Homo sapiens: one gene and its partner. The protein of the gene in region 1 purifies or fractionates together with the protein of each later gene. This does not show direct contact. Each region holds a gene or a part of one and is shown on either strand. Other genes may lie near its edges.

Region 1 (3,750 bases):
GGAGAGAAATGGTAGCTGCGCCAGGCAATGCCAAGAAAACCACACCAGTGGGAATTTTAAGAAGCAAAGGAGGGAGCAATGGTGCAGAAAGTTACCTAGAGGCCAGGCAGGATAGGGATGGAAAAGGAACCGTAGAATTTGCCAAATTGAGAGGGCGTCCGGGACTTCACAGCATTTTCAGAGGAGTGGTGGGGGTGGGTGCCAGATTGCTGTGGGCCAAGGAACGTGTGGGAGGTAAAGACAGGGCTGGCAGCCTGTCAACTTACTCTTTCAAGAAATATGATAGTGGGGGGAGGGGAAACGGGAAGATGGTGGAAGGAAGGGCTTTCTGGGGAGATGGAGGTTGGGAGCGACTTGAGCAGTTGTGAGCCAGAATGAAAGGAGAAGCGGAAGGCAGGAGTTTGAAGGCTTCAAAGCAAGGAGCCTGTCCCTAAGAGAGCTCCAGAGGGAGCTCCGAGGGACAGATGGAGAGTAGGGTTGGTGGGGGCTCAATGTGGCTGGACTTTTCCAGGCCTGTGCAATGGAAGAGGTGGAAGTGTTCATCTCTGTGGCCCCCAGCAGCTTAATAGTCTTTCCTTCTTCCCCTTTTCCTCTTCCTACCTTCCTCCCTTCCTCTCTAGCCACAAACATTTATTGAGCACATACTATGCACCAAGTCTTGTGCTAGGTTATGTTGCTATTATAATGAACAGGACAGTGTATATCATCCTTACAACTAAGTGAGGAGACAAATATTATACAAGAAGATGGACAAATGTGTGTAGGTCTACATATTGTATAATACTAACAATGGGTAATGTTCATTGGGCACTTTCAAGGTATCAAGACCTTTATAAGCATTTCTTAATAACCTTTTACCTAAAAATCCATCCCCTACATTAAAACTTACAAGATACTACTGATATTACCTTTTGCAGATCAGGAAACTGAGGCACAGAGGGATCAGATGACTGGCCAAAATCACACAACTTAGATTCACCTGTTTCCAGACGCAAGCACTTAACTGCCACACGGTCCTGACTATGTTGAGAGCTGCGGACACCAGTATGAACAAGACCTGCAGAGTGTCTAGGGCTGGGAAGAAGCCACGAATTCATTTACTGCCTTTTCCTCAAGGTGTGGTCCCTGGACCAGACATATCAGCGTCCCTGGGGAGGTAGTCAGACACGCAGGCTCTTCAGCCTACTGCGACCTACTAGACCGTGATGTGTAGTTTAAACAAGACCCGCAGGTGTCTGGTGTGTAGTTCAAGTTGGAGAAGTCTGGTCTAGAGCCCATTCCTCTTATTAGAAACAGGAAACCGAGGCCCAAGCATTTGAAGGTTATGGACGGTGGTAGAACTTTGGGGTTTGGTGAGTGGAGCCGGCCTAGGCCGGAATGGGCGCTTCCACTCTTGGCCCAGCAGGCCAGTGGGCAGGGCCGCGGGAAGGACGGGCGCTGCAGGGGCTCCGCGCGCTCAAGGTGCTCGCGGGCTCCCGGGCCCAGCCGGGCTGAGGTGGCGTGGGCGCCCTGCGGGCCGGGCCTCCGCGGCGCGTCCCAGTCCCAGTCTCCGCGCTGGTCTGGCCCGGTCCCTCAGCTCCACCCCCTGCCTCCCCCTCCCGCCCGCTCGCGCCTCCTGAAAAGCCAGCTCGCCCGGGGCGGCGGCGCAGAGCCGGGCCGGCGCACGAGGCAGCCAGCGCGGCCATGACGGCGGAGAAGGCGCTGCCCCTGGGCAATGGGAAGGCTGCTGAGGAGGCGCGGGAGTCCGAGGCGCCGGGTGGCGGCTGCAGCAGCGGGGGCGCGGCGCCCGCGCGCCACCCGCGCGTCAAGCGCGACAAGGCGGTCCACGAGCGCGGCCACTGGAACAACAAGGTGGAGTTCGTGCTGAGCGTGGCCGGGGAGATCATTGGGCTGGGCAACGTGTGGCGCTTCCCCTACCTGTGCTACAAGAACGGAGGAGGTGAGGTGATAGTGAGGAGAAGGGGAGGGGGCGCCAACCGCCCGGTGGGGGCGGGGAGCCAGGGGCGAGCGCGAGACCCCCTCCCGCGCCTGCGTGGAGCGGAACCCGAGCGGAGAACCTCGACTCCAGGCACCTCGCGTGTGAGCTCGCCCCGGAGCGCGGCCCACCTGTGCCAGTGCGCACGCGCACGTGCCAATTCGCACCTGAGGGTTCCACCTGCCAGCGCGGGGACTTGCCCGCGTTCTGTCCCCAGCATGAGATGCAGACCGAGGCCAGGGAGCCCTTGCTTTGGGTAGGCGCCCTGGTGTTTCGGGCACTTGGCCCCTTGGAGCCTCAGCTTTCCTAACTGGGAAAACGGCCTGTGGGGAAGGGACTCCTGATGATCAAAGTGGTCTCAGTTTTTGCGCGCTTACTGAAGTGCCGAGCACCTTTGACCATATCATCTCATCTCATCCTCTCAGTCACTTTCGTAGGCAGGGGTCTACCCATTTTGCAGGTGAGGACACTGAGGGTCAGAGAAGTCTCACTCGACCAAAAATAAAGATGAGATTCTGATGTCAAAGGCCCTATTTTAAACTGGGACTGGACTCACAACAGGGAGAACTTTTAGGCGAGGCATTGCTCTATGGTTTCCTGCCTAGTCTTTCGTCTGCTCTTAAGCCCATTTCTAGGGCCAATATTTGGGGCCCCTCTGGTGGAAGAATTGACAACGAACAGTTTATTTTACGGGTCTGAGAGTCACCCACGACAAACAGCAATACTGGTTTAATGTTGATGCTCTGCATAGAGATGTAGAAGGGGAGAGGGAAAGGACAGTGATGAGAGAGTCCTTTCTGGTGACAGCCTCTCAAAGTCAGTTTGGCAAAAGATGCAGCAGCGAATCCGTAACTCTCCCAGCTCAGGGAAGGGGCTCCAGCCTTCAGGACCCCCTCCTGTCATATCGGCAGGACAGCTGGGCGGGTCCATGGCAAGGGATCTTATAAAACCTCCTTCGGTGGCACAATTTCTCGAAGGAAGAGCCTGTATCTGTATATTCTCTCTTCTCTTTGCTGTGCCCCTGCCCCTCCAGCAAATTCCCAAACCCCAGCGAAGGTGGCTCAGAAGTTGGCTGGCAGGGACCGGGCTATGAGTCTGTGCAGAGCAGGACTTCCTGTGCGAGCAGCTGCCGGGAGAGGGAGAAGGGTACTGCTTGGCCCAGGCCCTTTCTTTGGGGACATTCATCCTGAAGGCACAGGCTGCTCCAAGCCTGCTCTGCACTGGTAATGAAGTGGCCGCTGGTGTTGGCGGCTTGGCAAGGGAGAGAGAGGGAGTGGACTTGGAGACCCCCAACGTGCCCTGTGCTCTCGGCTGTGAATCCTGCCTCTCTGCAGATACAGCGTTTGTAAGCTGCGTCCACTTGGAAACCTGTGCACACCTAGGGTAGTCCCCAGGCACAAATTGTTTTAACATCTTTTTTTTCCATACAGGAAATTGTTGTGCCAAAACAAAAAGCATTCATAAAAGCAGAAAACACGGTAAATTGGGTTAATTACAAATTCTGTCACAGATTTTTTTTTTTTTTTTTAAAAAAAAAGGTTGTAGTGAGTAAAGTTTTTTAAATGAGTCATTTTTTTTTTCTGACTAGCCAAGAGTTTTCTTGAGATTCATAGATCTCCTGGTTTGGTAGAGTTTATTGTCCTAAGGGTTAGTAGCTTTGTGAATACACAGGTCAAAAGGCTTTCTGAAAGTGTCATACGTTAGATTCTAGAGGTTTCACAGGTAAATAACAGCATGTTAGGGGACCTGCTGCAGCTGATTTTAATCACTTAGAT
Region 2 (3,650 bases), on another chromosome or scaffold:
CTGGCTGGAAGTACAGGTGCGCACCACCACGCCTGGCTAATTTTTTATATTCTTTAGTGGAGACAGGGTTTTGCCATGTTGGCCAGGCTGGTCTCGAACTCCTGACCTCAGTTGATCGCCTACCACGGCCTCCCAAAGTGTTAGGATTACAGCCGTGAGCCACTGCGCTTGACCATTTTTTTAGTCTTTTCTCATTGACTGACATTAGAACATTGGGAGAACATGAGGCACTGAAAAATAATACAGTACCCACAAAAGATAAGATATAAAATGAACTACTGAATGACAATTAGGAAATAACTTATGCTTTATAAACTAAATACATGTGATCTTTTCCAGTGAGCCACGTATTGTTAGTAGAATTTTCCAGTGTTGTGCTTGGAATGGTGGAGTGTTCTGGGTAAGTTCTTTAAATTCCAGGTGCCTTATAAGCATCTTCAGATTGTTGCTGGGTTGATAGCTATGAACTGTTTTCTTGAAACACTGAGACAAATAGTTTTCATCTGCTGATGTACACTTAGAAATATAACTCAGGAGTCTGTGCATCTGCAGAGATTTTATTCCCACTCAGGAAAGCACACTTATATGTAAGCAAACGTCACAGCCCTGAATATACACTTGAATTTTGTTTCTAAAATGACTCATTCACAAGTATTAGAGGTAGCAGTTTCTCTTGACACTGTCTAGACATTTTAAAATGCTAACAGCAACTATGGGGACTCGGGAAGGGCAGATACGGCTAGACAAGAACAAGGTTCTCCCTGCTTCTGCTTATAGTGATCAACAAGAGTTAATTTGCATTGAAACCTATAGCAGAAAAGATTGCCTACCATTTACTGAGAATCCCAGTGCAGGCTTAACTGAAATTTGGGTACTTTGAAGAATGGATAAATATTTCCTTTGACTTAGAATTTAGAGTAATTCATCACTTCTTAATCTAAACAATTCACAGATGTTTTCAGATGTTAGTTTTAAATTTAATTAATATGTATTCCTGTGTACTTAGTACATGCCTGTATTTTGGCCTGAATACTACTTGAAATGTTCCTGTATGCCCCCAAAAGTTTCATTGTTTTATAGGCAATATCAAGTTTGTATCTCTCAATTGGAGTGTTGGGAAATAGAAATGGATCCAGTTTTGGTGCTTTTTCAGGCCTCCTGATTTATTTTATTTATTTATTTATGTATTTATTTGAGATGGAGGCTCGCTCTGTTGCTCAGGCTGGAGTGCAGTGGCATGATCTTGGCTCACTGCAACCTCTGCCTCCCGGGTTCAAGCGATTCTCCTGCCTCAGCCTTCCCAGTAGCTGGGATTACAGGCATGCACCACCACACCCGACCAATTGTTGTATTTTTAGTAGAGACGGGGTTTCACCATCTTGGCCAGGCTGGTCTCGAACTCCTGACCTCAAGTGATCTGCCTGCCTTGGCCTCTCAAAGTGAACCACCGCGCATGAGCCACCGCGCCCGGCCTAGGCCTCCTGATTTATAAAAGTCACTCCCATCTATAAAATCATTACACTAAAAATTGAAGCTCCTGTTTTAAAGACTGGATTTTGATGTTTGCCTTGTTGCTTCTTTTCTTTAGTTCAGTCTCCTCTTGTTTTATCGAGTATTTATTCCTGTGCTTCAGTCGGTAACAGCCCGAATTATCGGTAAGTGTATACCCTGCTCCTTGTCTGTTGGGGACAGAGTGGGAGATGATGTTTCAGTCTCCCTCAGTTTACTGAACATTTCCTGTGTACCAGGAGCTTTCACTGTTTATTTTCTTTTTTGTTGTTTTATTCTTTTTAAAAATTTATATTTCGTTATTCTCCTAGAGGCCCTTTAAGAATGGGTACTGTTGTTCTATCCATTTTATGAATGAGGAAATGCAAGTTACCAAGGTTAAACCATTAGTAAGAGGCAAAGCTGAGATTTAAACCCAGATGGTATCCTGCAGATAGCGTACTGGTAATCACTGTGGCATCTCGTTACCATCATGTAAGCAGGTTTGTGTCAAGCAGCACATATCTATGGTTTCTTTGAATTGGAATTGTGGCCAGAATGTGGTGCGTCTATTATGAGTTAGACTCTTTGAGATAGGTATAGTGATGTGCTGGCAAGAACTAGAAAGATCCAGGAGGAGACAGAGAATAGTCACGAGATGGGGGTTCCGCATTTGGTCTTCTGGATTTCCATTTCTCCATTTCTAGTAACTCGTTTCCTCTTTCTTAGGTGACCCATCACTACATGGAGATGTTTGGTCGTGGCTGGAATTCTTCCTCACGTCAATTTTCAGTGCTCTTTGGGTGCTCCCCTTGTTTGTGCTTAGCAAAGTGGTGAATGCCATTTGGTTTCAGGTAGGTCCAGGGCAGAATGGAGTCTGGGTCCCGCAGCATGATTGGCTGACAGGTGACAAGTTTCAGCCTGTGAAGTTAGTGGGCATGTAGGGGGACCTGTTTTTCAGCCTTAATGTTTCTTGGCCAGGTAGCCAGTAGCTGATCTTTGTGTTCTTACAGAATGGAATTATTGTCTCAGCATCTCATTGGCAGGTGTCTGGTGCCTTTTCTTTTTCGTTTTGGCTTTTTTTTTTTTTTTTTTTTTTTTGAGACAGTCTCACTCTGTCGCCCAGGCTGGAGTGCACTGCAACCTTTGCCTCCCGGGTTCAAGCAATTCTCCTGCTTCAGCCTTCCAAGTAGCTGGGACTACAGGCACGTGCCACCATGCCTGGCTAATTTTTTTTGTATTTTTATTAGTGACAGGGTTTCACCATGTTGGCCAGGCTGGTCTCAAACTCCTGACCTGCTGATCTGCCTGCCTCGGCCTCCCAAAGTGCTGGGATTATAGGCGTGAGCCACGGCATAAGGCAGCAATCCTCCTACCTTAGCCTCCTGAGTAGCTGGGACTATAGGCACATGCCATCGTGCCCAGCTTATTTTTAAATAAGCCTTTTCTTAACTGGCAGCTCTAGTGGCGGACTAGTGGCCTTAGCTTTGGGGATGTATATCAAGGCCATTTAATTCATGTTTTGGTACACTTTCTCTGTTACAGGATATAGCTGACCTGGCATTTGAGGTATCAGGGAGGAAGCCTCACCCATTCCCTAGTGTCAGCAAAATAATTGCTGACATGCTCTTCAACCTTTTGCTGCAGGCTCTTTTCCTCATTCAGGTGAGACTGACCTTCTGGGCATATGGGCAGCTTTATTAAAAAGAAAAACTGTTTCACTAGAGAGAACTTCACAAAGACAGAGTATTATATTTATACAGAGTATTATATATATGCTGGTGGGAGGTAATGATTTTTAAATCTTTTTTTCCCCACGGAAATGAGAATTTTAAAATTACATTATAAAATTATAAGAAACATGAATTTACCTGCTTTTTTCTGCTACTCTGGTTATTCTCCAGTCCTGCCAGGTGGAAACTTTTTTTCTTTTTATAGTTATGCCTAATTTTTTTTTTTTTTTAAAGAGACAGACGGGTCGGCTGGGCGCAGTAGTTCATGCCTGTGATCCCAGCACTTTGGGAGGCCGAGGTGGGCGGATCACCTAAGGTCAGGCATTTGAGACCAGCCTGGCCAACATGGTGAAACCCCATCTCTACTAAAAATACAAAAATTAGCTGCGCGTGGTGGCAACATGCTTGTAATCCCAGCTACTCGGGAAG

The links. Proteins that work in one complex are often made in the same cells at the same time.
Region 2: the proteins of SLC6A11 (region 1) and EI24 purify together in Homo sapiens (affinity purification with mass spectrometry; one large-scale study listed by BioGRID and IntAct). This does not show direct contact.

Annotation. Positions count from the first base shown.
Region 1 is NC_000003.12:10,814,583-10,818,332, forward strand, and holds the start of SLC6A11 (sodium- and chloride-dependent GABA transporter 3), read left to right. Parts: upstream 1-1,645; 5' UTR 1,646-1,683; coding exon 1,684-1,939; intron 1,940-3,750. UniProt on the Homo sapiens protein: Mediates sodium- and chloride-dependent transport of gamma-aminobutyric acid (GABA). Can also mediate transport of beta-alanine and to a lower extent that of taurine and hypotaurine.
Region 2 is NC_000011.10:125,575,916-125,579,565, forward strand, and holds part of EI24 (etoposide-induced protein 2.4 homolog), read left to right. Parts: intron 1-339; coding exon 340-400; intron 401-1,588; coding exon 1,589-1,655; intron 1,656-1,820; exon of another isoform or gene 1,821-1,991; intron 1,992-2,217; coding exon 2,218-2,342; intron 2,343-3,033; coding exon 3,034-3,153; intron 3,154-3,650. UniProt on the Homo sapiens protein: Acts as a negative growth regulator via p53-mediated apoptosis pathway. Regulates formation of degradative autolysosomes during autophagy.